Homo sapiens: one gene and its partners. The protein of the gene in region 4 purifies or fractionates together with the protein of the main gene of each other region. This does not show direct contact. Each region holds a gene or a part of one and is shown on either strand. Other genes may lie near its edges. The genes, in order: ALG3, AGPAT3, FITM2 and GPR52.

Region 1 (7,301 bases), on a different chromosome or scaffold from region 4:
TATCCCTGGGTTTTGGTGTGTGTTTGCTTCTAATGGTGTACATCTGTGACTCTTCAGGCTGAAACTACCTTCAGGGAAACTTTGCTTCTTCCCTTTCTCTGTTCCCTCTAGCTCTTACCAATTCTCCTGGGAGCACATTCTTGACAAGTAACTTGGACATGAATCCTCATCTCAGGATTTGCTTCTGGGGAACTCAATCTAAGACAATGAGTGCAGGGGTTGCCAAATGCAGCTTGCCACCTATTTTGTTAGATAAAGTTATATTGAAACATGGCTATTCTCATTCACTTTTTTTTTTTTTTTTTTTTTTTTTGAGATGGAGTTTCACCCTGTCACCCAGGCTGGAGTGCAGTGGTGAAATCTTGGCTCACTGCAACCTCCGCCTCCCTGGTTCAAGCAATTAATTCTCTTGCCTCAGCCTCTGGAGTAGCTGGGATTACAGGTGCCTGCCACCACACCTGGCTGATTTTTATGTTTTTAGTAGAGACGGGGTTTCACCATGCTGGCCAGGCTGCTCTCGAACTCCTGACCTCAGGTGACCCGCCCGCCTCGGCCTCCCAAAGTGGTGGGATTACAGGCGTGAGCCACCCTGCCCGGCCATCATTCACTTTTGTATTGTCTGTAGCTGCTTTTCCACTACAATAGCGGAACCAAGTCATTGTAAAAGAGACTGTGTAGCCTGCAAAGCCTAAAAAATTTACTTGTTTGGCCATTTTCAAACAAAGTTTACAGACCCCTAACCTGGAGTAAGTCTCTTAGTACTTTTGACTTGTCTTCAGGGGTTGTCATAAGGATTAAGTAAGTTAGAAAGGGCCCAGCACATTCTCTGGCTCTTATCAGGCACTCAACTTAAGTCTGTTGAGGTGGAATGTAACGTAGAGTATTTCCCAAGTTGTGGGTCCTGTTCTTACATCTTGGGGATTCTAGAAATTCCCCTTTTGATTTTTAGACTTCTTGCCCCTCCTATCCAGAAAAGGATAGTTCCCAGTTAAGCAGATTTTTTTTAAAGCATCAGTTTGGTGAAAAACCAGTCAAGCAGATTTTAAGGCAGTGTTACTCTGCCAATCACCAGCATAAGAATCTGCTGTGAAGCTTGTTGAACATACAGATTCCTGAGACCCACATTAGACCATCCCTGGAATTAGAATCTCACAGTGCAGTCTAGTTCCCCAGGTAATTTTGATACACACTAAAGCTTGAGAAAACAGATCTAAGGTAAATCTATAAATAAGTGCAATGGTTTAAAATCACAGATTCAAGAAAGTGTTTACTTGTGGGGAGAAGGGGTTTTAGGAGGACCACACAGAGAACCTTGAATATACTTTTCATTTTGCCAGGCATTGTTCTAGGTATCCTTCATGCTCATTTAATCAACTTAAAGCCCAATTAATAAATATGCTTATGTTTTTAAGGTTGAGAAAATGGAAGCACAGAAATTCAAGTATTTTGTCCAGGATTACACAGCCAGTATAAGCCGAGCCAAGATTCCAACATAATTCACTGCCTCTGGAGTCCAAGGTGGTTTTTTGTTTGTTTGTTTTTTGTTTTGCTTTGTTTTGAGACAGGGTCTCATTCTGTCGCCTAGGCTGGAGCCCATTGGAGCCATCACAGCTCACTGCAGCCTGGATCTCCTGGCTCAAACGATCCTCCTGCCTCAGCCTCTTGAGTAACTCGGACTATGGGCACAGGCCACCATGCCCAGCTAAGTTTTAATTTTTTTTTTTTTTGAGACAGGGTCTTACTCTGTCACCCAGGCTGGAGTGGAGTGGTGCAATCTCAGCTCACTGCAACCTCCACCTCCTGGGCTCAAGTGATTCTCCTGCCTCAGCCTCCCAAGTACCTGGGATTACAGGCACGTGCCACCACACCTGGCTGATTTTTGTATTTTTAGTAGAGACGGGGTTTCACCATGTTGGCCAGGCTTGTCTTGAACTCCTGACCTCAAATGATCCACCCGCCTTGGTCTCCCAAAGTGTTGTGATTACAAGCATAAGCCACTGCTCTGGCCTAAATTTTTTGTAGAGATGGGATCTCACTATGTTGCCCAGGCTGGTCTTGAGCTCCTGCGATCAAGTGATCCTTCCACCTTGGCCTCCCAAAGTGCTGGGATTATGAGCATGAATCATGAGGCCAGCCCAGAGTCCAAGTTCTTTTCTTTTTTTTTTTTTTTTTTTGAGACAGAGTTTTGCTCTTCTTGCACAGGCTGGAGTGCAATGGCATGATCTTGGCTCACCACAACCTCCGCCTCCCTGGTTCAAGCGATTTTCCTGCCTCAGCCTCCCAAGTAGTTGGGATTATAGGCATGCGCCACCACACCCGACTAATTTTTTGTATTTTTAGTAGAGATGGGGTTTCTCCATGTTGGTCAGGCTGATCTCGAACTCCCGACCTCAGGTGATCCGCCCGCCTTGGCCTCCCAAAGTGCTGGGATTAATGGCGTGAGCCACCGCGCCCAGCCAAGTTATTAACCACTAAATTATACTTTTTTTTCTATCCCTAGTAATGTTCTATTTCTCAAACTGAGTGGAATAGACACACACATTAGATTTGTTATTTATACCTTACATATATATTACATATACCTTTTTTATTTATTAAAGACTTCACTTAAACATACAAAGGCTTTTACAAAGAGCAAAGTAAAAACGACAATTGGAAGAAAATCTGTTGCTCATTCAAACTTTACTAGCGCCTCCAAGGCTGACACTAGGAGAGAACCTCAAGAGGTCAGCCGAACACCCCAGAGCCCTACCTTTCCTCCAGCACGTCTCCCTTTGGGGAATCGTATCACCCTGGGCGGCAATCTCCCCTCCACCCCTAGAGGGTGCTGTTCTCACTCTCTAAGGCATAGGACCAAGTTTCAGACAGGACTCTCTCTAGGTGACTCTGGCTCCCAGTGCCCAGGGGCAAAAAGAAAAGCGCTGGGCATTATTCTCGAGGTGCCTGCGCGTGCCGCCTCCGATGTGAACTCGCAGTACCATTTCTAGAACTGAATCTAAAGCTCAGAACGGGTTCATGACTTGTCCTAAGTTTTACAAGTCAATTAGCGCTAGGACTTGATCTCGGTCCTCTGAGCAATCCGGTCCCCAAGGCTGCCTGCCTCCCGAGGGTCCGGACAGGGTCTTGGGTACCCCCAACGCTCAAACTCTGAGGGACTGTCTTTCTCCAGAGGGCCCCGGGACCAACAATCTCTTACTCCTGTTAGCCTTGACTAAATACAGCCGGGACTCTGAAGGAGCTGGATCTCGCGTCCCAACGCAGGCGTCCTCCAAGAGGGATAGACAGGCGGGAGGAAAGCGGACCAGGCCAAGCCCATGCGGCGCCGGTCCTGCCAGCTCTACCTGGCGGGGCCGCGCCGGGATTACCCACCTAGCACAAGGATACGGTCCTCGGGCCGCAGCTCCGGCTCTAGGAGGGCACGGAAGGAGGAGAAGTCCCCGAACCAATCGTAGGGGGCAGAATCGGCTGCGCCTTGGTAGCGCTGATCCCAGTACTCGACTTCGCGGTACCCGCAGTTCCGCTCCGGTAACTCCGGAGGCGCCCTACCTGCCCCTGGAGAGGCCATGCTCTCAACCGCCGGGCAGCCAGAGCCGCCGGCCCTTCAGCCAATACGGAAGGCAGGATGCAGAAGGCGGGGCGCTGGTGTCTCCGCCCACCACCTGCAGTTGCTCAACACAAACACGTGGAACTTCCGTCCTTTACTAAGCGCTCTTCGAAGAATCCTCCGGCTGGGAAAACTATCGTCCAGACCCTGAATCCTCCGGCTGTACTGCCAAGTCATTTCCTAGGGCCGCACTCAAGGTGTCAGACTCACGTGGGCTCATCACTGCGTCCTCTCATATTTTCAATATGAATGACTTTTATCAGGAAATCTGAAAATTAGTGAAAGGTTCATTTTTCTCAGCATCCGGAAGGCTCGAAGGGCAGGCAGGAGGGGCGCGAACAGGGGCTTTGCCCTCCTGGAGAGACAGCATGAACACAGATGTTCCCAGCGCAGGCGAAGGAGAATGCTGGCTTCAGCGGTTGTGGGGGAGGTAGGCAGGAATGTTGCTTTTCTGGACATTCGTTCTAAATTAGCGCCTGTGTACCCAGGGCTGGGTATAAACTGAGGAGTAAGACATTGTCCCTGCTCCTATGGAGCGTGGAGTGCATCAGAGGAGACAAATGCAGAAAAATTACATTTTAGTGGAGTAAATGAAGACTGGCTACTCGGATCGGCGCTTAGCCTGGTGGGACGCCAGGCACGGGAAGCGGAACCTAAGTGTCGAAGGTTCGGGTTTCCGGGGGTGGTGGGCCCACACAAGCGGCGCACCGTTAAGATGGCGGCTGGGCTGCGGAAACGCGGCCGGTCCGGTTCCGCGGCCCAGGCAGAGGGACTCTGCAAGCAATGGCTGCAGCGCGCCTGGCAAGAGCGGCGCCTGCTGCTGCGGGAGCCGCGCTACACGCTGCTGGTGGCCGCCTGCCTCTGCCTGGCGGAGGTGGGCATCACCTTCTGGGTCATTCACAGGGTGGCATGTGAGTGCGCCGAGGGGGAGGGGAGGGGAGGGAGGGAGACCTGAACCCGCGACCCAAACTGGATCTCAGACCTGGAACTCCAAACCAGACTCTGTATCCACTCACTCGTCAATTGCGAACCCATCCATATCCCTTACCTGAGCGCCAAGCCTGCTCTACAGAAAACCGGATCTTAATCTGCCCGCATGGCAGAGGTGGATACCCTAGAGATTGGCCTTCTGCACTGAACTTACAGCCTGCAAACCAGCTTAGAAGTCAGATTTGAGCCAAAATTGTTGTACTGCTGCTGCTGCTGCTTTTCTCTGTGGCTTTGGACACCTCAGGTCTCCTCCTGGATCTCAGCTTTTTCCATGTGTTCAGTTCTGTGATCTTTGAACGTCCCTTCTCAATGATGGCATCTTGTGACCACTTGAGTCCATTAGGCATTATTGGCTACTCCTTTCCAGGCTGAAACTATACTCTAGGCTTAAGGCACTTGGCTTTCTTGCTAAAGACTCTTAATTCAACAAATATTTATTTAGTGCTTATTATATGCCTAGCATTATGCTGGTTACCAGAGAGAGGTACAGTGGTGAATAAGAGATGCATTTCTGCCGGGCGCGGTGGCTCACGCCTGTAATCCCAGCACTTTGGGAGGCCGAGGCGGGCGGATCACGAGGTCAGGAGATCGAGGCCATCCTGGCTAACACGGTGAAACCCCGTCTCTACTGAAAAAAAAAAAAAAAAAAGAATTTAGCCGGGCATGGTGGCGGGCGCCTGTAGTCCCAGCTACTCGGGAGGCTGAGGCAGGAGAATGGCGTGAACCCGGGAGGCAGAGCTTTCAGTGAGCCGAGATCACGCCACTGCACTCCAGCCTGGGCGACAGAGCAAGACTCCGTCTCAAAAAAAAAAAAAGAAAAAGGATGCATTTCTAACTCGGGCCTGGACAGTAAGTTAGCAGGCAATTATAATGCATCATAATCATGGTAGTAGTAACACAGGATACCATAAAGGGCATAGGAAGTCACTTAAACCAGGTTGGAGGAGTCAGCAAAGGCTTCATAGAGCCACCCTTGGAAGGTAGGAATTAGCTATTTAAGGAAAGAAGAAAAAGGTGAGGGGAAGGAGTGCTGTGGACAGAGGATCCTCTATTAAAAATCTCCAGCTAGGCTGGGCGCAGCGGCACACGCCTGTAATCCCAGCACTTTGGTAGGCCTAGGCGGGTGGATCTCCTGAGGTCAGGAATTTGAGACCAGCCTGGCCAACATGATGAAATCCTGTCTCTACTAAAAATACAAAAATTAGCTGGGCGTGGTGGCATATGCCTGTAATCCCAGCTACTCGGGAGGTTGAGACAGGAGAATTGCTTGAACCCGGGAGGTGGAGGTTGCAGTGAGCCGAGATTGCGCCACTGTACTCCAGCCTGGGTGACAGAGCAAGCTCCGTGTCAAAAAAAAAAAAAATTCAGTTAGACTGGGCACGGTGGCTCATGCCTGTAATCCCAGCACTTTGGGAGGCTGAGGTGGGCGGATCACTTGGGGGCAGGAGTTAAAGACCAGCCTGGCTGGGCACGGTGGCTTATGCCTGTAATTCTAGCACTTTGGGAGCCCGAGGCGGGCAGATCACCTGAGGTCAGGAGTTCAACACCAGCCTGGCCAATATGTTGACACCCTGTCTCTACTAAAATAGAAAAATTAGCTGGGCATGATGGCAAGTGCCTGTAATCCCAGCTACTTGGGAGGCTGAGATGGGAAAATGGCTCGAACCGGGGAGATGGTGGTTGCAGTGAGCTGAGATCGCACCACTGCACTCCAGCCTGGGTGGCTGAGCGAGACCCTGTCTCAAAAGAAAAACAAACAAACAAACCAGCCTGGCCAACACGGTGAAACCCCATCTCTACTAAAAATACAAAACTTAAAAAATTAGCCAAGCATGGTGGCACACACCTGTAGTCCCAGCTACTCGGGAGACTGAGGCAGGAGAATCACTTGAACCCGGGAGGCGGAGGTTGCAGTGAGCTGAGATCGTACCACTGCACTCCAGTCTGGGTGACAGAGTGAGACTCTGTCAAAAAAAAAAAAAAAAGAAGACAGCCTGGTTCCTTTGAGGAACTGAAATGATTTTTTTAGAGCTAGAGTGTAGAAATCAAGTGAAGGGAGTAGTAAGAGATGGGAATGCAGAAACTGAGGCCAGATCATGAAGGAATTTGAAAGCTTTGTTAAGAAGATAGCATGATAATTAAGAACTTGGGACCCTGCAAGCTTCAATCCCAACTCCACCATCCTAGCTCAATTATCTTAAGCCAGTCACTTAACCTAATTAATTCTTAGGCTCCCCTTCAAAAAATGGGAATAATACAGAGTTTTCTTTATCTTAAGGGTCTTGGGGAATCATTGAGAGGTTTTAAGCAGAGGCCTGTTATGATTTGTATTTTAGGAGGAGCTCTTTGGTGTACGAGGTGGAAAATATATTGTAGCAGGGTGAAAGTAGAAGTCAGGAGCCTAATTAGCAGGCTATTGTATACTCATTGGGGCTAGAGATTACTTTAGGCTCAAATTTGAGTATGTAGTAGCAGAGAAGGATGAGATAGAGATATTTACGGTGAGGAACAGGCAGAACTTGTTGACGAAGGGTTGCAAATGAGAGAGGAGGGAGTATCAAAGATGTTACTCAGGTTCGTGACCTGGTAGCTAAGAGGTCGGTGGTGCCATTTGCGGAACCCAGGAAAAGGAGTAGATTGGAATGGGAAGAAAGATCACAAATTCACTTATAGAAATGTTGAGTTTGAGATGCCTGGGCTCACCCAG
Region 2 (7,025 bases), on a different chromosome or scaffold from region 4:
GTGTGATGTGTGGCATGTGGGGTTTGTGATGTGGTGTGTGTGTGGTGTGTGGTTTGCGGTGTGTGTGGCATGTGTGTGGCATGTGTGGGGTTTGTGATGAGCTGTGGTGTGTGGCGTGTGTGTGGTTGTGTGTGTGTGGCGTGTGTGTGGTATGTGTGTGGCATGTGTGGTTTGTGGTGTGTGTGTGACGTGTGGTTTGCAGTGGTGTGTGTGTGGTTTGTGGTGTGTGGCGTGTGTGTGGTTTGCAGTGTGGTGTGTGTGGCATGTGTGTGGTTTGTATGTGTGTGGCACGTGTGTGGGGTTTGCAGTGTGCTGTGCAGCATGTGTGTATAAGCGTGAGGCATGTGCGGGGTGTGCAGTGAGCAGTGCCCCGGTGTTCCTGTGAGGGTGTGGGCGTGGCCACCCTGACGCTGTCCCTGTCCCTGTCTTTGCAGGACGGCTGTCCTCAGCGAGGGGCCGTGCACCCGCTCCTGAGCAGCGCCATGGGCCTGCTGGCCTTCCTGAAGACCCAGTTCGTGCTGCACCTGCTGGTCGGCTTTGTCTTCGTGGTGAGTGGTCTGGTCATCAACTTCGTCCAGCTGTGCACGCTGGCGCTCTGGCCGGTCAGCAAGCAGCTCTACCGCCGCCTCAACTGCCGCCTCGCCTACTCACTCTGGAGCCGTGAGTGTCTGCTGGGCCAGTCCCTGCCGCCTGGGGCTCCCGTGGGGGTGGCGCGCGACCATGCACGGGGCAGCCGTGGGCTCTCAGGCAGGAAGTGAGGGCTATGCAGGAGGTGCCGAGGCCATCTGGCTGGCAGGCTGTCGGAAGGCACCTGGCTACCTCTTTTTCTTAGCTTGAGCTGTGTGACGTGCCACTCTCACCATTCTGACCCATAGCAATGGCAGCTTCCCACGGTTTACCAGAGCATATGGGAATGTTTAAACAAAAGTAAAGAGAATGTTGAGTTCTGTTTACCCGTTACCAAGCTCCAACAGCTCCCTACATGGCCCCTCGTGTGTCCTGCCCACACTGCGCCAACACCAGAGCATGCTGACGCGTATTTCAGCATGCATCCCTGAAAGAAAAGGTGTCCTGCCTCCCTGCGTATCAAACACATGTGTAGCTGTGTGTCTGTCCGTATGTGCCTCTGTGCGTATGTGTATTATACATAGAGAAACCGATCTGTACCTGTCATGTGGACAGAGACTCAGAGGCTTGGTAACAACACCCACTGTGGACAGGTAACCGCTCACACCGGGCGTCGTGGGGACATGAACAGGCGCATCTCTGGAGGGTGGTTTGGCAGTGGCCGTCAACAGTTTAAGTGGTTGCAATTTTCAACTCAGCAATTCCACAGAATAACATGCAACCTACAGAGATGTGCAAAAGTATGCAACTGGACAGGTGTTCTCATTTTATCACAGGTATTCTCATTATTGTATTATTTTTATAGTAGCACAAAACTAGAAGCAACCCAAGCACCTGTCACTGGAGACTAATTATGCGGCACCCATACAGGGACCCTCTGCGGCCATCATGGAGAGCCTTCATCTTGCCCGTACAGTTTTAAGCGAAAAAGGAAGTATACAACAAAGTCCATAGTATGCTATGATTCATTTTGTGTCTTAAGAAAGGATGCTGTGTGTGTGGTGTGTACATGTGTGGAAAAATCCCAGAAGGGGCTGGGCATGGTGGCTCATGCCTGTAATCCCAGCACTTTGAGAGGCTGAGGCAGGTGGATCACCTGAGGTCAGGAGTTCAAGGCCAGCCTGAGCAACATGGTGAAACCCTGTCTCTACTAAAAATACAAAATTAGCTGAGCATGGTGGTACACACCTGTAATCCCAGCTACTCGGGAGGCTGAGGCAGGAGAACTGCTTGAACCTGGGAGGTGGAGGCTGCAGTGAGCTGAGATCACACCACTGCACCACTCCAGCCTGGGCAACAGAGCAAGACTCTGTCTAAAAAAAAAAAAAAAGAAAACAAAAATCTCAGAAGGATGCCCGAGAAAACTGCGTGATGCTGATATCCAGGGAGTGGGGAAAGGAGGGGATTCTTACGTTTTATTTCACACTCTCATGCTGTTTCCATGTTTTTGCATGAGCGCATAGACACTTCGTCTCATATGGGAAACGGTGAGCGCATAGACACTTTGTCTCGTGGGAAACGGTAAGCGCGTAGACACTTTGTCTCACGTGAGAAATGGTGAACCCACATACACTTTGTCTCATATGGGAAACGGTGAGCGCATAGACACTTTGTCTCATGTGGGAAAGGGTGAGCACGTAGACACTTTGTCTCATATGGAAAACAGTGAACGCGTAGACACTTTGTCTCGTGGGAAACGGTGAGCGCGTATACACTTTGTCTCATATGGAAAACAGTGAGCGCGTAGACACTTTGTCTCGTGGGAAATGGTGAACCCACATACACTTTGTCTCATATGGGAAACGGTGAGCGCGTATACGCTTTGTCTCATGTGGGAAATGGTGAGCGCATAGATACTTTGTCTCATGTGGGAAATGGTGAACCCACATACACTTTGTCTCATATGGAAAACGGTGAGCGCGTATACACTTTGTCTCATGTAGGAAATGGTGAGCGCATAGACACTTTGTCTCATATGGGAAATGGCTGGCCTGTAACCTTGTCTGCACGATCTCCTTCCAGTTCAGGAGCCGGTAGCACTGCTGAAAAGGCTGTTTATGTCAGCTAACTTTTCATGCCTGCGACACCCCACTGTCTGCAGAGAGACTAGTAACCCAGCCCTTAGACTAGCTTGTCTTAAATGTGTTATAGCTTCAGTTCCTGGTTTGTTTTTTCTCTTTTTTTTTTTTTTTGAGACTGAGTCTCGCTCTGTTGCCCAGGCTGGAGTGCAGTGGTGCGATCTCGGCTCACTGCAAGCTCTGCCTCCTGGGTTCACGCCATTCTCCTGCCTCAGCCTCCCGAGTAGCTGGGACTACAGGCACCCGCCACCACTCCTGGCTAATTTTTTTTGTATTTTTAGTAGAGACGGGGTTTCACTGTGTTAGCCAGGATGGTTTTGATCTCCTGACCTCGTGATCTGCCCACCTCGGCCTCCGAAAGTGCTGGGATTACAGGCGTGAGCCACCGCGCCCGGCCAGTTTGTTTCCTTTTTTAAATGAAAGGCTGCTGCTTTTTTCTGTGGGAAGGGAGAATTGGAAATCCTATAATATAAAATATACAAATGAGTTATTCATGAGTATAACTGGATAAGATGAATACATACAAAAAGGGCAAATATTAACTGATGAAAACTAAATTACAGACTCCTACTTTCTAGCAGTATTCTGAAGCTAAAATACTACAAAACAGCTAAATCCTGCCTGAAACTGGCTTTTTAATGCATTTCTGGGCTCACAGTAAGGAAACAAAAACCTCTCAGCTCCACCCTTCCACCAAATCCCTTTAGCAAAAACCGGGGTGTGCAGAAATGGAATGTCAGCACTGCCTTTCAGGAGCCTAACCCTTGGGCAGCTGTAGCAGAGGGCGCTGAAGCTAAACCAGGACTCTTGAGCGAGGGCGCGAGACAAGCTAGGGTTAACAGTGACCCTTGGGTTTCAGCAGAGGCAAACGAAAGTACACTCTGGAGAAAGTCTCATTCAGGCCTGAAGAATCCCACAGATTAAGGAAAATTAAATATGAATTCATAATCAAGAATGACAACGTAAACAGCAGATGTGGACTGAAGATGACCCACTGTGCCCCGACTTGAAAGAGAACCAAGTAGAACTGCTCTCAGTGAGAACTGTAGATATTTTAAAGCAAAAACTTACAGACAGGTTTTGTATCAGATTAGATACAGTTAATGAGAATGGGTACAGAACCAAGTAGAACTGCTCTCAGTGAAAACTGTAGATATTTTAAAGCAAAACCGTATGGATGGATTTTGTATCAGATTAGACACAGTTAATGAGAGAATGGGTACACCAGACATCAATGTGAAGAAATCATCCAGTGACAGTAAAGGAGGTGAAAAATGTGAAATAGGCGTGAAAAGATGTAAGGACAGAATGAGAACCTTCATAAAATAGGGCTTTGGCCCCCATCCCCAAAGGAGAGAACAGGAGAAGCCTCCTGGGAAGAGAGGATGCCTGAGGACCTCCTGAACTGATGAAGGCACGATTTTTCAGATACAGGAAGCACATGTAGACCAAGCAGAGCGAATGCACAGAAATCCACACCTAGGCAGGCCCTGGGGCATCACAGACCATCAGAGACAAGGAGGAGCCGGGCGCGGTGGCTCACGCCTCTAATCCCAGCATTCCAGGAAGCTGAGGCAGGAGGATCCCCTGAGGTCAGGAGTTTGAGACCAGCCTGGCCAACATGGTGAAACCCCATCTCTACTAAAAATATAAAAATTAGCTGGGCCTGGTGGCACATGTCTAATCCCAGCTACTGGGGTGGCTGAGGCAGGGGAATCATTTGAACCTGGTCGGTGGAGGTTGCAGTGAGCCGAGACTGCATCACTGCACTCCAGCCTGGGTGACAGAGTGAGACTCTGTCTCAAAAAAAAAAAAAAAAAAAAAAAGATAAGGAAGTCTTCGAATCCCCGGAGAGGAAAGCTGGAGAACCACGCTGGATGGTCAGCAGTGAGGCCGACAGCAGATTTCTTACGGCAGGCAGCAGTGGCGGGAGAAGGTGGAAGATCCTCAATGTGCTGGAAAATCACCAACCTAGCACCCTGTGTTGTTCAAGAGTACAAATAAAATAAAAAGGTTTTGGTAAACAAAAAAATGAGAGCTTTTACTGCCCATAGATCTTCACTTCAATATTTTTTAAGGATGTGTTTCAGTAAGAACAAAAATTATAAAAGTAGGGTATAATTTTCAAGAAAGAATGGTAGCCAAAGAAATTAGGAGATGGATGAATCTAAACCGTATGTAAAATAAAAACAGTGCTCAGCCGGGCGCAGTGGGTCACGCCTGTAATCCCAGCACTTTGGGAGGCCAAGGTGGGCGGATCACCTGAGGTCAGGAGTTCAAGACCAGCCTGGTCAACATGGTGAAACCCCATCTCTACTAAAAATACAAAAATTAGCCTGGCATGGTGGTGGGCACCTGTGATCCCAGCTCCTCAGGAGGCAGAGGCAGGAGAATCGCTTGACCCTGGGAGGTGGAGGTTGCAGTGAGGTGAGACTGCACCACGCTCAGCTAATTTTTTGTTTTGTATTTTTATTAGAGATGGGGTTTCACCATGTTGCCCAGACTGGTCTCAAACTCCTGACCTCAGGTGATCCGCCCACCTCGGCCTCCCAAAGTGCTGGGATTACAGGCGGGAGCGCCCAGCCCAGGTTCAGATTTTAATGGTAACTTTGTTAAGTATAGGGTAGGAAAAAAGAGAGATCAAACATAGCTTCCAAAGTATTAGAAAAAGATAAAGAAAAAAAGGTAAATCTCTTTTGTTAATGCAAGAAAGTAGAAAGAAAAGCATTAAAATAAGAAATATTGAGGTATACATTAAGATCAATATAAAATTCCCAGATACTTGGGATGACCACAAATACACAAGAAAAGCACTTCAGTAAGAACAGAAATAATCGGCCTCTCCATCTGCTGGGCTTGCGTGGGTATGTGAATTCCGTCTGTGACTTGTTGGATTTGGGATGTTCTCCACTTAGATTTATTTCCATGAATATGTTTGTGGGAGCCTTTCTGCAGTCAGAGGTATGTGGAAGCCTTTGCCAGTTCAGGGGCGCATGGTGAGAGCAGACCTCACAGTGGGTTTGTTTATGTTTGTTTGTTTTTGAGACAGGGTCTTGCTCTGTCGCCCAGGCTGGAGTGCAGTGGTGTGATCTTGGCTCACTGCAATCTCTGCCTCCTGGGCTCAAGCAGTCCTCCTACCTCAGCCTCCTTGAGTAGCTGAGACCACAGGTGTGCACCATCATGCCCAGCTAATTTTTGTATTTTTTGTAGAGACAGGGTTTTGCCATGTTGCCCAGACTGGTCTCCAACTCCTAGGCTCATGTGATCCTCCTGCCTCAGCCTGCTGGGCTGCTGGGATTACAGGCTGAGCCACCGCACCAGCCACAGTGTTTTCTGATGACCCTGAACCACGGTTTTATTTTCAATTCTTCATTCCTGTTCTCATTCCTTAATGCTGGGTGCCTTCTTGCTGCCCATTTTGAACTCACTGCCAGTGTGTCTCTGCTGTCATCTGATGTGCAGAGCTATAGGTGCTGCGGCGAAGGGTGCAGGTTTGGAGCCGTTTAAACAACCTGGCCCAGCCTCCTCACTCCCTGCTGACCTTGGTCAAGGCTTCAGTCTCTAAACCTCAGCTTTCTCATCTGCAGAGCACAGACAAAACCACCTGCCTTTGAGCTGTCTTATAAAGCCTAAATCAATGCGCACAGCAGGTACACAGCAATGCTTGATAAATTGTTACTATTATTGGGTGAATTTTAGGTTTTTTTTGTTGTTGTTGTTGTTTTGAGACAGAGTCTCTCTGTTGTCCTGGCTGGAGCACAGCAGTGCGATCTTGGCTCACTGCAACCTCCATCTTCTGAGGTTCAAGTGATTCTCGTGCCCCAGCCTCCCAAGTAGCTGGGATTACAGGTGCCTGCCACCACATCCAGCTAATTTTTTTTATTTTTAAGTAGAGATGGGCTTTTGCCATGCTTCCCCAGCTGGTCTTGAACTCCTGGCCTCAAGTGATCCTCCTGTCTCGGCCTCCCAAAGTGCTGGGATTACAGGCTTGAGCCACCGCACCCGTCCAGAATTTTAGATTTTTTTAAATCCGTGGTTGAAAAATAGGCTATGGCTGGCTTACTCATTGTGCTTTAGGGAAGCATGTATTTGAGTGAAGGAAATGATAAAAGGAATTTCATATCGGGCCCAGGCGCCGCCCACCCTGCAAGACAGTTTACAGATGCCTGCCCTGACAGCTGTCTGCAGTTAGCCAGCGTCAGCCGAGGGGTCCTGAGATCCGCTGAAGGCTGCCTTTGCATGCCGACAGCAAGGGAAAAGTGCCACATGTCCCTGGGCTTGCCACAGGTGACCTTTGGATGGGACCATTCTCCAGACAGC
Region 3 (7,411 bases), on a different chromosome or scaffold from region 4:
TGTTTCTTAATGTGTAGCACATTATTTACAAATAATAAAATATATGGCCAGGCTTGGTGGCTTACACCTGTAATCCCAGCACTTTAGGAGGTTGAGATGTGCAGATTGCTTGAGCCCAGGAGTTTGAGACCAGCCTGGGCAACATGGCAAAACCACATCTGTACCAAAAAATGTACAAAAATTAGCTAGAGGTGATGGCTGATTTAGTCCGCCTGTAGTCCCAGCTACTCGGGATGCTGAGGTGGGAGGATCACTTGAGCCCAGGAGATTAAGGCTGCAGTGAGCCATAATCACACCACTGCACTCCAGCCTGGGCAACAGAGTGAGAACTTGTCTTAAAAAAAAAAAAAAGAAAGAAAGAAAAGAAATATATAAATACTCTTTGTTATAACTATAGCTAATTGATTCTCACAGAATGCTTTTATTGATTTTTGTTGGATTCTTGTAACCATAGGCAACCTGTGGTTTCAATTCAACCATGTTTTGACAAATGGAGTTGACTCTCAATGTAGACAAACCAAATAAATCCCTGATTTGTAGCACCTGCCAATTTCCATAGTGTAAATACTCCCCCTGTGGCTGATTTCAAGCTCTCAATGTGACATCACTGAATAGATTTGGGAAGAGTTGTGCAGGAGCTTACCATACAGGAACAATAGATGTAAGTTACCCCAAGAGCATAGATAATAATAAAACATAGTAAAATAATTAGTAACTAATGAGTTTTGAGTATTTTCAGTTTGTTTTTTTATATATGTAACTTTTTTTTTTTTTGAGAGAGGATTTTGCTCTGTTACTCAGGCTGGAGAGCAGTGGCATGATCACAGCTTACTGCAGCCTCAGTCTCCTGGGCTCAAGCCATCCTCCCACCTCAGCCTCCTGAGTAGCTGGGACTGCAGGCACACACCACCATGTTTGGCTAATTTTCGTATTTTTTGTAGAGATGGGATCTCCCTATGTTACCCAGGCTGGTCTGGAACTCCTGGGCTTAAGCGATTCACCTGTCTTGGCCTCCCAAAGTGCTGGGATTACAGGGGTGAGCCAACAGGCCCAGGCCCTATAATGCAGTTCTTAATATGGCTGTGTTTGACAATCACCCCGCAAAAGTTCTGAAAATTTAATCATCAGCTCTTGCAGGCTGGTATGAGTTGACTACAGCACATCATTTCACTCACAACATAAATATGTATTTCCCAATACTGATTCAATTTTTTTTTAAATACAAAAACTTCTCTAGAGACCTGCAACAATTTTTTCAGGTTGAGTTTAACCCAGTCTTCAAAAATCTCCAGCCATGGTGGCCAAGCGTGGTGGCTCATGCCTGTAATCCCAGCACTTTGGATGCTGAGGCAGGAGGATTGCTTGAGGCCAGGAGTTCAAGGCTACAGTGAGCTATGATCGCACCACTGCCCTCCAGCCTGGGAGTGCAGAGCAAGATCCTGTCTCAAAAAAAAAAAAAAAAAGAAAAAGAAAAAAAGAAAAGAGAAAATGGAAGGAAGGAAGGAAGGGAGGGAGGGAAAGAAAACTCTCCAGGAATGAAACTGCAGTTTCAAAGGAAACAAACCCATTTCCTTTCTCAAAAATACAAATCCTGAACCTTTCAGAAGGTACTCTTTGGACAGTCCCTCGGGGTGATATTTAGTGTTTATATTCACCGAGCAGTCTTTCCCTCCTTCTTGGGTTGGGGGACGTATCTGGATTTTCTTTGGAGGAACCACACAGCTAATAAGGAGGAGAACCGGCACTCAAACCCAGCATCCCTGCTCTTAATTCTTATGCTGTTTGCTAAGGAAAGCCACAGTAATTGAGCACCTGACAAACTCAAGGAGACAGAGATGGTATCAGATACTATTTACAAGCTGCCTTCATAAATAACCCCTTTCTGGCTATGTAGTTTTTATTCCCAATCATGAAATGCCAAATTGGTATAATTATCACTATATTTTATTTTTTAAACCAAGCATTCTGAAGGCCTGGAAGCATCTTGCTATATAAGAACTCTAATCAGATAAATGCAATTTACAGATATGAAGGTCATCTTAAGATGGTTTTAAGGAATTATTATTTTCATTAATTTGTTGATTCTCTGCATGAGACTATAAACATTAGTCCATTGTAGGCATAAATCAGGCTAACATTTCCCAGTGTGGTAGCTGTCCTTGGTATAGAGACACAAAATTATTTTGGGCAGCTAGTGATGATGAATATTTCGATAGAAATTTTTCTTTGGGCCGGGTGTGGTGGCTCACGCCTGTAATCCCAGCACTTTGAGAGGCAGAGGCAGGAAGATCACTTGAGGCTAGGAGTTGGAGACCAGCCTGGTCAACATGGCGAAACCCTGTCTAAAAATACAAAAAAATTAGCCAGGTGTGGTGGCATGTGCCTGTAGTCCCAGCTGCTTGGGAGGGTGAGGCAGGAGACTACCTTGAACCCGGGAGGCAGAGGTTACAGTGAGCCAAGATCAAAATAGCTTGGCCTCCCAAAGTGCTGGGATTACAGGCGTGAGCCACCACGTCTGGCCTAAAATGCCCATCTCTTGATATGACTATATATGTGTGTATTGGCTGGGTTTGTGGCTTTTGGAATAAACTTCTGTTGTTTAAAACAAGTTTAGGGTTGGGCACGGTGGCTCGCACCTGTAATCCTAGCACTTTGGGAGGCCGAGGCAGGAGGATCACTGGAGCCCAGGCGTTCGAGATCAACCTGGGCAACATAGTGAGACCCCATCTCTATTTAAAACTAAAGAAAAAAAAAGGAATAAAAATAAACTGAGTTTATAGTAATTTATTAGAGCTGCCACAGGAAACTAACATTGGGGTAAGGGAATGAGTCCAAGGTTGGGAACTGAAATAGACACCCAGCCCTAACCAGGGGTGAGGGGTTAGTTTTGTGATAAACTGAGCAACTGAGTCTCCAACAACTTCATGTGATCTCCCCATTAACCCCCAGCATCCAGCATTTTCATCCAACAGGCATAGATAGCTGTTTTGTGTTTCTTTGTGTGCTTTTTAAGACGGTCTCGCTCCGTGGCCCAGGCTGGAGTGCAATGGGACCATCACAGCTCACTGCAACCTCAAATTCCTGGGCTCAAGCAATCCTCCCACCTCAGCCTCCTGAGTAGCTGGGACCACAGGCCTGAGCCACCAAGTCAGCTAGTTTTTAAAATTATTTCTTATAGATACTGAGTCTCACTGTGTTGCCCAGGTGAAAATAAATTTAGAAATTTAAACTTTAAATGTAATAATTGCACCAGGTGAGATGGCTCACTCCTGTAATCTCAGCACTTTGGGAGGTGAAGGCTGGCAGATCACTTGAGGTTAAGATTTGGAGAGGTCAGATCACTTGAGGACAGGAGTTGGTCAGCCTGGCCGACATGGTGAAACCCCATCTCTACTAAAAATACAAAAATTAGCTGGGTGTGGTGGTGCGTGCCTGTAATCCCAGCTACTCGGGAGGCTGAGGCAGGAGAATCGCTTGAACCTGGGAGGCAGAGGCCTGCAGTGAGCTGAGATCGCGCCACTGCATTCCAGCCTGGGCAACAGAGCGAGACTATGTCTCTAAATAAATTAATTATATTAATTAATTAATTTAATAACTGCAGAGCGTGGTGGCTCACACTTGTAATTGCAGCATTTTAGGAAGCCGAGGCAGGAGGATCGCTTGAGCCCAGGAGTTTGAGACCAGCCTCGACAACGAAGCAAAACCCTGTCTCTACAGAAATAAAAATAAAAAAAATTAGCCAGGTGTGGTGGTGCCCGCCTGTGGTCCCAGCTACTCGGGAGGCTGAGGTGGGAGTATTGCTTGAGACCAGAAATTTGAGGTTGCGGTGAGCTGCGACGGTGCCATTGCACTCCAGCCTGGGCGACAGAGAGGGACCCCCCCCCAACTAACTAATAAATAAATAAATACAATAATTATTCCTAAGGAAACTTCATCTCATGTCCCTCTACGTGTGCCAACGTAATGAACCCCTGAGCTCATAAACTAGCTTTTGGGAAAGGTTGATCTCCTCTTGTCTCTCGCATTTTACAGATGAGAAAACTAAGACTCAGATGGCAGAGGTGTCTCCGAGGCTCCAAGAAAGATCAAATGATGCTGTGACTACTGCTCCAATTCTCCAGGGCTACATTTATCCTCTTCCAGCCTCCAGCAAATACTTTCACAAGCGCTTTTTCCCAGACCAGAGCAAGACGCGGAGGCTCGGGGAGAGGAGGCGGCCAGGAGAGCGCAGAGGAGACGAGCGAGTTCGGGGACCGTCACGCGCCAGAGGCAGCAGCGGCCACGAGGGGGAGCGCGCGGGCTCCGGAGCCCAAGCACGCCTCAAGCTGTGGGACTCGCGGGCAGTGCGCATGCGCTCGAAGGGAGGTGGAGGCGCAGGTCCGGGCGAAGGGCGATACGGTGGCCGAGAGGGCACGGAGAGGAGGACGGTGGCTGACGAGATCCGGCATGGAGCATCTGGAGCGCTGCGAGTGGTTGTTGCGGGGGACGCTGGTGCGGGCGGCCGTGCGGCGCTACCTGCCCTGGGCCCTGGTGGCCTCCATGCTGGCGGGCTCCCTCCTCAAGGAGTTGTCCCCGTTGCCCGAGAGCTACCTCAGCAACAAGCGCAACGTCCTCAACGTGTGAGTGCACCCCGGTCCTCCGCTGTCCCCGCCCGAGCCGGCCCGCTGTCGCCTCGCCCAGAGAAGCCGGTGCTAGCTGCCGTGGTGGACGAGTCATTGGAGGGGAGGTCCTCCTCCTAGCCGTGACAGCAGCATCTGCACGCGTGTCACGCCTGGGAGGCCCCGGGGTAGCTGGTGTCACTAGCAGTTAGTGTTTGCAGACCCACTTTGGGCAGCATGAGCTTGACTGGGCAGGTGGTGACAAGCGGGGTCGTGTGTGTCTCTGTATATGTAGGGGTGTGGAATGGGGTGGGGATGAACCAGCCCCTGTCACCACTCCCCCGCCTCCCCTTGGAGTTAGGAGCTGACCCCTGCCCTGTTTGGGAGATGCCATCTCACCTCTGTCCTGCCTGCCTGTGGCAGACCCCGCGCAGACCCCACCCTGCGTCAGATCAGATCCCTCCAGCGCGTGACAGAATCCCTTTACGACCTGTGGAAGAGCCTCGCCCCAGCCTGTGACAGGCAGAGCCCCCGCCTGTGAGATACTCACAGAGGGCTGGAACCCCCTAGTCTGTGCCCTTTCCCCTGGATCTCCTTGGATCATCTCAGCCACTCAGAATGCATGGCAGTGGCCCAGAAAAGCAATCCCAGCTGGGCGCTTTGAGACATCTCCTTAACTCCACCCATCCACTCCTTTGCTTGCTTACTTGCTTTTTTCAAAACTCCCGGTTAGTAAGTTTATTGCACAAAAACTCTGTTGCGGTCATAAAGGGAAACTCTGAAAGATAAAACTGCTCCCTTGATGTGAGCCTAAGTGTTTTCCAGAATAAGTGTCTCTGGCGTGTCCTGAAAGTCAGCCCAACTTTGGTTATCTGCTTAAAACCCTGGTTCCTTTCACAGGCAGCTTCCTCAAATGCCTGACGGGTCTTGGCTCTGGCAAGATCTTCCTTATCAGTCCCAGTGAAGATTTTAGTGACAGGCCTGGGGGTGGTGCCTGAGAATCCATTGGAACCTAGAAAAAAGTCCTTCTGTCCTTGGTCCACCTTCCTTCCTCACCCACCCTGAGAGGCTGGGCTAAGAATAGATCATGAGAGTGGTAGTGGCCCCAAGTCTCTGTCCTGGGTTTAGGTCAGCCACCTTTCGTGAACGCTGGGGAGGCGGACAAGGCAGCTGCTGCTTCCTCTGGCCTAGGTGAGCTGGGAGCCAAGTGGCCTGGCTGACAACACACCCCTGTTGTTTGAAGGTAGTCATGGATCCTGGAGTTTTGTTCCAAGCCTCTGTGCTGATTAATGAGAGGGAACTAGTGAATCCTGGGATATAGAAGGGACCTTAAAAATCATTTGGTCCTCTCAGCTCTGTTTGATAGCTGAAGAAACTGAGGCCTGGAAAGGTAGGAGGTATAGTAAGTTAAGTAAGAGTGAAGATTTGAACCCGTAAGAGTGAAGATTTGAACCCCGGTCTTTTGGCTTAAAGTAAGACCTTGTTGCAAGACTGTTTCTGCCGTTAGGAAAGAACCAGGCTGGGCGCAGTGGCTCACACCTGTAATCCAGGCACTTTGGGAGGCCAAGGCAGGTGGATCACTTGAGGTCAGGAGTTCAAGACCAGCCTGGCCAACGTGGTGAAACCCCATCTCTACTAAAAATACAAAAATTAGCCTGGCGTGGTGGTGCGTGCCTGTAATTCCAACTACTGAGGAGGCTGAGGCAAGAGAATCACTTGAACCTGGGAGGCGGAGGTTGCAGTGAGCTGAGATCATGCCACTGCATTCCAGCCTGGATGGCAGAGTGAGACTTTGTCTCAAAATAAATAAATAAATAAAAATAAAAATACAAAAATTAGCCGAGTGTGGTGGTAGGTGCCTGTAATCCCAGCTACTCCGGAGGCTGAGGCAGGAGAATTGCTTGAACCCGGGAGGCGGAGGTTGCAGTGAGCCGAGATCGTGCCACTGCACTCCTGGGTAATAAGAGTGAAAACTCTGTCTCAAAAAAAAAAAAATCATTTGGTCCCCCCAGCTCTGTTTAATAGCTGAAGAAACTGAGGGCTGGAGAGGTAGGAGGTATAATAAGTTAAGTCAGAGTCAAGAGTTGAACCCGTGTCTTTGGCTTAAAGTAAAGCTCATTGTTGTAAGACTGTTTCTGCCATTAGGAAAGAACCAGGCCAGGTGCATGGCTCATATCTATAATCCCAGCACTTTGGGAGGCTGAGGCAGGATAATTGCTTGAGGCCTGGAGTTCAAGACCAGTGGGGGCAACATAGCAAGGCCCCATCTCCACAAAAATAATAATTAAAAAAAATTAGCCAGGCACATTGGTACACACCTGTAATCCCAGCTATTTGTGAGGCTGAGGCAGGAGGATTGCTTGAGCCCAGGAGTTTGAGGCTGCAGTGAGGTGTGATTGTGCCACTGCACGCAAGCCTGGGGGACAGAGTGAGATCCTGTCTCAGAAAAATAAAAATAAAAAATAAAAAACCACATATGGTATGGGAGAAACAGCATGAGTCTGGGGGCTATCCAAACCGTGGTTTAATCTGTTCATGCTGGTTGTGTGAGTGTGACCCTGGCAAGGTACTGAACTTTTCTGAGCCTTAGATTTCTTGTCTATAAAATGGAACAATGGCACCTTCCTCCCAGGGTAAATGTGAGTGCTCTATGGGAAAGTGAATGTGTGTGAAAGCTCCTGGCATTTGGTAAATGCTCAGTTATTATTATTTATTTATATTATTTTCCTAAGTAAATAACATAGTGCTTAAGACGACAGATCCTGGATTTGAATCCTGGCTCCTCCGCTTCTGGCCTCCACTTTTGGTGTGGC
Region 4 (6,370 bases):
TCTATTTTTGTTTTGTTGCCTGTGCTTTTGAGGTCTTACTCAAGTAGTCTTTGCCAAAACCAATGTCCTGAAGCATTTCCCAGTGTTTTCTTGTATTAGCTGCATAGTTTCAGGTCTTACCTTTAAGTTTTTAATCAACTTTGACTTGATTTTTGTATATGGTGAGAGATAGGAGTCTAGTTTTATTTTTCTGCATATGGATATCCAGTTTTTCCAGCAGCATTGATGGAAGACACTGTCTTTTCAACAGTGTATTTTCTTGGTGCCTTTCCTGAATTTAGGTTGACTATAAATGTGTAGATTTATTTCTGGTTTCTCTGTTCTATTCCATTGGTCTATGTGTTTTTATGCCAATATCATGCTGTTTTGGTTACTATAACTTTGTAGTGTATTTGGAGTCAGGTAGAGTGATGCCTCTAGCTTTGTTCTTTTTTCTTAGGATTGCCTTAGCTATTCAGGGTCTTTTGTAGTTCCATACAAATTTTAGGTTTTTTTTTTCTATTTATTTGAATGTCATTGGTATTTTGAAAGGGATTACATTAAATCTGTATGTTGCTTTGGGTGATATTGTCCTTTTAACAATATTAATTCTTCCAATCCATGAACATGGCATATCTTTTTAATGTGTTGTTTGGTTTGCTAGTATTTTGTTAAGGATTTTTGCATCTATGTTTCTCAGGGATATTGGCCTCCTATAATTTTTTTTGTTGTATGTGTCCATGTCTGCTTTTGGTATCAAGATAGTGCTGGCCTCACAGAATGAGTTTGGAAGTATTCTCTCCTCTTAACTTTTTAAGAATAGTTTGAGTGGAGTTGGTATTAGTTCTTCTTTAAGTGTTTGGTAGAATTCAGCAGTGAAGCCATCAAGTTCTGGGCATGTCTTTGATGGGAGACTTTTTATTATTGCTTCAATCTCTTTACTCATTATTAGTCTGTTCAGATTTTCTATTTCTTCATGGTTCAATCTTGGTAGATTGTATGTGTCCAGGAATTTAGCCATTTTTTCTAGGTTTTCCAGTTTGTTGGCATATATATTTTTCACAAGTCTCCAATGATCCTTTGTATTTCTGTGGAGTCAATTGTAATGTCTTTTCATCTTTGATTTTATTTATTTGAGTCTTCTTTCTTTTTTGCTTAGTCTAGCTAAGGGTTTGTTGATTTTGTTTATCTTTTCAAAAAATCAAGTTTTTGTTTTGTTGATCTTTTTATGTTTTTTAGGACTTTTAAGAATAATAATAACCTATTTCGGTCCCATTTTCACAAGTCTGTGATTATAGGCAAGTTATACTTACTATCTCTACTATCTGCTTTCTTCATTTGGAAAATGATAATGATGATACCTACTTCATAGAGTTTTAAGATTTTTATAAAGGAAAAGTATATAATGCACACAGCACAATGCTTGGCATATAGAAAATACTCAACAAATGTTAGTTATCTTCCATTTTTATCTTAATTTTCCTGGTGTATTTTAATTCTGACATAATTTGTAAATTAGTTCTAAGTCACTTTTAAGAAAAATGCTGATCCCCTAAGAAGTTTAAAATAGTGAATGTTTGTCTGTAGTAAGTCAAAATAATCAGAAATGTTTTAATGTCCATCAAATATTTGATTAAATTAATTTGCATTGTTCTAATTTAGGTATGTGTAGCTCAAGCACTTAGAACAAATTTCTTTGACCATTTGACCTTTTTTTTCATATTAGGATAAAAAGTGGATAAGCAATGTTTTTATTTATTCTAATTTCTATGCTCTTTTGAGATCATATTTGACCTTCAGTATTGCTCTGAATAGATTTTGGTACAGTAGTGTTAGTTCTATTGCTTTGTTTGTACAGTTAAATACATCAAACTCAGCAATTTTTTGTGGGGGTGATGGGGATTGGAGAGATTAGTAAATGATTTCTAAGTTCTGTTAATTAAAATGTAACTATATATTTTAGAGAGAAGTTAGTAGTCATATCACTTTAGTTCATGAAGACTTGGCAAATTTTTAATAATTAATAAGTTTTTTCTGCCAATGAGCATTAGATTACTGCTGACTTTTTAGTGTCATAGTACCTTGTGGTAGTTTCTTTACAGGGTTTACAGGAGTATGGCAGTTTATTTTTTCTGTCTTGTCCATACGAAATAATCTTTACAAATGCTATAAGGAGAATACCTTGAGAAGTTCATAAATGCCTTAATATATTATAAAGATCGGTCAGTTCCATTGTCTTCTTTTGTCAGTCTTGATCGGAGCTTGCCGAGTAAGTCTATAAGCCTGCATGTGCCTGGCAACTGTTACCTAGTGACAGTTTCAGCTGCAGTAGCCATTGGCTGTGCTGTTGATTGGGGCAGGAGGGCCGAGTCACCTTTCTGATGGTGAGTTTTTCTGCATCAGCCCAGGATGAGGAGGAGGAGTAGGGCTTGGGCTCAGGTGGAGTCATTGATGCTGAGAGATTGTGAAGAATATACTGACAGCATCCTTGTAGCTGCATCACAGTAAATCGGACTTCTGAATCAAGCAGCCCAGCCTAGCAGCTGATAAGAGTGAATGTAGGTGAGAAGCATTACCTTATTCCTGTAACAAGAGAACTGTTTTGTGATAAGTGAAACTAGGAATGTAGAAGAAGAAATATCCTATGGCTATTATAAAAGAAGAAGGACTTGCCTGAATGACTTGGTGGTGCACCAGAAAATAACTTTCAGAAGAATGCTTTCTGTTAAGCTGCTGCATTGTTCCTGGAGGAAATGTTATTTCTAATGCATGTTATTTCTTCAAAAGATAGGATAACAAAGAATGACAGGAGACTCTCTGAAATGACTTCACTTTTAAAAAATACTTTGGCAAATGTTAACCTGATATCAAAATGACCTTGGAAGCATTTTGGATGGATTCTATCCTGGCAGCCTTGCAATGTTTCAAACTCTAGGATTTAAAGTTCATCTTGATACTTTAGAGGTATTTTAAAATAAGACTATCTTGCAACCTACCTAATGGCCCCTGTGTTAATTGAGCACTTGCTCAAAATAGAGTACAGAAAAATAGAAGAGGCATTTTTTAACATATGGCTGCTACATAACTGCAAATGTAATAAACAAGGTAATTTTCCACTTTCAGAAGATATAGTTGAAGTAATGATTTAATGTGTTAAATCATCTACTGAAAATAGAAAAGGTATAGCAACATAGAACATGAAGCCTATTAGAAATACCTAAGTAATAAATAATGGCAGCATTTCTGGTCAAATAAGCTCGGAGTATATTGGAAAGTTTTATTGTCTAACTTTATATTTACATATATATGTGAGATATGGGTATACAGTTGCAAAGGTGAGAAATAACTGTGAGCTACATATTTTATTATCATGCTCCATTATAAGGAAGGTGGTATATGAAATAACAAATGTTATTTTAAGTTATAGATGCCAAATTAATAGCAAAAATAATTCATTTTGAAAAGGAAGAGGTATAAGTTACGTTGCTGTTAGTACCACCAGTAACTGTAATGGATTAAAACTGCTTTCATCTAAATGCTTTAAAAATGCATGCAGAATTAAAACTTCAGAAGTTTATTACATTTTGCCAGGTGTTAATTCATTAATTCATTGTATATTCTCTTTTCTATTGGAAAATACTTTTTTCTCATGAGAGTTATAGGGCAATCTGGAGTCTGTTTGTTACCTCTATTCTGCCCATGTAGAGATGAATCTTTTCAAATTAACTTTGATAGAGTTGTTTTTCTTAGATTTTAGAAAAATGAGAAATAGGTTATAAATTTGACCCCCCAACATCAATCCCTGAACTAAGCCCAAAGACACTCTTTGCCACAATGAACTTTTTCTTAGCTTTTCAACCAAATTTGAGATCTTAAATTATTTAAAATCTAAAATATGAATGCATTTTTCATCATAGATAAAGCAGGAAGCCTGAGACAGTTTCAGAGTTTTTCTTTTCTCATTCTTTCCAGTTGCTCCCTAAGAAACTGCCTCTCTTAGGAGAACAGCCCACAGAAGCTTTTCTTCCTTTGGCAATTCATTTTTTTTCTTTTTACAGATTTAATTTTTCATAGTGCAAGATAATAAGAAGTCTATTTTCTCTAGAAGTGCCTTATGTCTGCAAAAAGTTCTTTGAGGGCACCAGAGGAAACTAATTAGTGACCTCTTTTCACCTCCTTTCTAGCTTATCCCCTTCTCTCCACCCCTTACCGCCCCCCCCCCACCCCCCCGCCCGAAAGCTGAGGTGTGTCACTGCTGAACTGAGGCTGGTGAAGAGACTTGAGCACTCTCTGGGACTCTCAGCTGTGACAGAAGCACTGACACTGTCTACTGAAGCAGGTTCTGAAACACTCATGTGCGGTGTTTAACAGATGCTGGGCAGGGCATCTGCTTGCTGTAGCCAAGTCTGCAGGTGTCTTTAAATTTCCAAGCCATGAATGAATCCAGGTGGACTGAATGGAGGATCCTGAACATGAGCAGTGGCATTGTGAATGTGTCCGAGCGTCACTCCTGCCCACTTGGATTTGGCCACTACAGTGTGGTGGATGTCTGCATCTTCGAGACAGTGGTTATTGTGTTGCTGACATTTCTGATCATTGCTGGGAATCTAACAGTTATCTTTGTCTTTCATTGTGCTCCACTGTTACATCATTATACTACCAGCTATTTCATTCAGACGATGGCATATGCTGATCTTTTCGTTGGAGTTAGCTGCTTGGTTCCTACTCTGTCACTTCTCCACTACTCCACAGGTGTCCACGAGTCATTGACTTGCCAGGTTTTTGGATATATCATCTCAGTTCTAAAAAGTGTTTCTATGGCATGTCTTGCTTGCATCAGTGTGGATCGTTATCTTGCAATAACCAAGCCTCTTTCCTACAATCAACTGGTCACCCCTTGTCGCTTGAGAATTTGCATTATTTTGATCTGGATCTACTCCTGCCTAATTTTCTTGCCTTCCTTTTTTGGCTGGGGGAAACCTGGTTACCATGGTGACATTTTTGAATGGTGTGCCACGTCTTGGCTCACCAGTGCCTATTTTACTGGCTTTATTGTTTGTTTACTTTATGCTCCTGCTGCCTTTGTTGTCTGCTTCACTTACTTCCACATTTTCAAAATTTGCCGTCAGCACACCAAAGAGATAAATGACCGAAGAGCCCGATTCCCTAGTCATGAGGTAGATTCTTCCAGAGAGACTGGACACAGCCCTGACCGTCGCTACGCCATGGTTTTGTTTAGGATAACCAGTGTATTTTATATGCTGTGGCTCCCCTATATAATTTACTTTCTTCTAGAAAGCTCCCGGGTCTTGGACAATCCAACTCTGTCCTTCTTAACAACCTGGCTTGCAATAAGTAATAGTTTTTGTAACTGTGTAATATACAGCCTCTCCAACAGCGTTTTCCGGCTAGGCCTCCGAAGACTGTCTGAGACAATGTGCACATCCTGTATGTGTGTGAAGGATCAGGAAGCACAAGAACCCAAACCTAGGAAACGGGCTAATTCTTGCTCCATTTGAAGAGAGCTACATAGTAAATCAAATGTAATCTGACAGTGGTTTTGGATCATATTCTAGATTCATCTGGAAATTTGCCATCAGAGAAATATTTACTTGAATAGTTGACTGTAAAATGAAGTATGAGACTAAAGGTTTCTCTCTTTTTTTTTCTTTTTCATGGAAGAAACTAAAGGGAAGGATGTATAGAGGGTTAGCTCATGAAATAATTATAGCATGTGAGTATTAGTGTGCAGTAATAGGAAAAATTAAGCACTGAGATGAAAAAGAATATCTCAAATCTTCTGCAGGACATGAGCAAGCCCCTTGGCTCAGCATTTCTGTCTTTCTGTCTGACTGTACCCTGCCTCTGTCTTTCTCATTTTGTCTATGTTTCTCTCACTCTTTGTGGAAGTTATTACTTACATAAACTGCCCTTTGTAGAAAAGTGCTACATATTATATATGTGGTAAAGTATAATCTTTTGCATCAAAGTGTACCTTTAATCACACTAATCTATAATCCATAAGTGATCTCTTCATGGAGGATGCACAGTAAGCATTGCATTTTATTATTTGCCAAACAACCCCTTTGCTTGTGTTTTTATAATGTTCTCTGCAGCACAGTTTTTCTGCTATAAACAAATAGAAACAGTATTTTTGTTTCTTCTGGGTAAAATGACATTTGCTTTTCCCTGGTTTCCTAACAGTCTCCTGTTTTTTTTCTCTCTTTTTCTTGATCTGCATCCATTGGTACCTTACTTTAGAAGTGTCTTAGCTATTGAAAGAATCTACTGTATAGAGCATCCATGATGTTAAATAATGTATTTCTTCCAGCAAAGCAATCTGGTAGCTTATTAAATATTTTTAATGGCTTTTGGAAACATTTTTATCTGG

Evidence for each region.
Region 1: the proteins of GPR52 (region 4) and ALG3 purify together in Homo sapiens (affinity purification with mass spectrometry; 2 studies listed by BioGRID and IntAct, with this or other methods). This does not show direct contact.
Region 2: the proteins of GPR52 (region 4) and AGPAT3 purify together in Homo sapiens (affinity purification with mass spectrometry; 3 studies listed by BioGRID and IntAct, with this or other methods). This does not show direct contact.
Region 3: the proteins of GPR52 (region 4) and FITM2 purify together in Homo sapiens (affinity purification with mass spectrometry; 3 studies listed by BioGRID and IntAct, with this or other methods). This does not show direct contact.

What each region holds. Positions count from the first base shown.
Region 1 is NC_000003.12:184,245,959-184,253,259, reverse strand, and holds the start of ALG3 (dol-P-Man:Man(5)GlcNAc(2)-PP-Dol alpha-1,3-mannosyltransferase), read left to right. Parts: upstream 1-4,297; 5' UTR 4,298-4,319; coding exon 4,320-4,515; intron 4,516-7,301. Other genes in the region: EEF1AKMT4 (EEF1A lysine methyltransferase 4), read right to left, coding at 3,370-3,565; EEF1AKMT4-ECE2 readthrough transcript protein, read right to left, coding at 3,370-3,565. UniProt on the Homo sapiens protein: Dol-P-Man:Man(5)GlcNAc(2)-PP-Dol alpha-1,3-mannosyltransferase that operates in the biosynthetic pathway of dolichol-linked oligosaccharides, the glycan precursors employed in protein asparagine (N)-glycosylation.
Region 2 is NC_000021.9:43,959,200-43,966,224, forward strand, and holds part of AGPAT3 (1-acyl-sn-glycerol-3-phosphate acyltransferase gamma), read left to right. Parts: intron 1-434; coding exon of another isoform or gene 435-482; coding exon 483-660; intron 661-1,432; exon of another isoform or gene 1,433-1,580; intron 1,581-7,025. UniProt on the Homo sapiens protein: Converts 1-acyl-sn-glycerol-3-phosphate (lysophosphatidic acid or LPA) into 1,2-diacyl-sn-glycerol-3-phosphate (phosphatidic acid or PA) by incorporating an acyl moiety at the sn-2 position of the glycerol backbone.
Region 3 is NC_000020.11:44,308,184-44,315,594, reverse strand, and holds the start of FITM2 (acyl-coenzyme A diphosphatase FITM2), read left to right. Parts: upstream 1-4,392; 5' UTR 4,393-4,446; coding exon 4,447-4,619; intron 4,620-7,411. UniProt on the Homo sapiens protein: Fatty acyl-coenzyme A (CoA) diphosphatase that hydrolyzes fatty acyl-CoA to yield acyl-4'-phosphopantetheine and adenosine 3',5'-bisphosphate.
Region 4 is NC_000001.11:174,443,700-174,450,069, forward strand, and holds GPR52 (G-protein coupled receptor 52), read left to right. Parts: upstream 1-4,264; 5' UTR 4,265-4,412; coding exon 4,413-5,498; 3' UTR 5,499-5,846; downstream 5,847-6,370.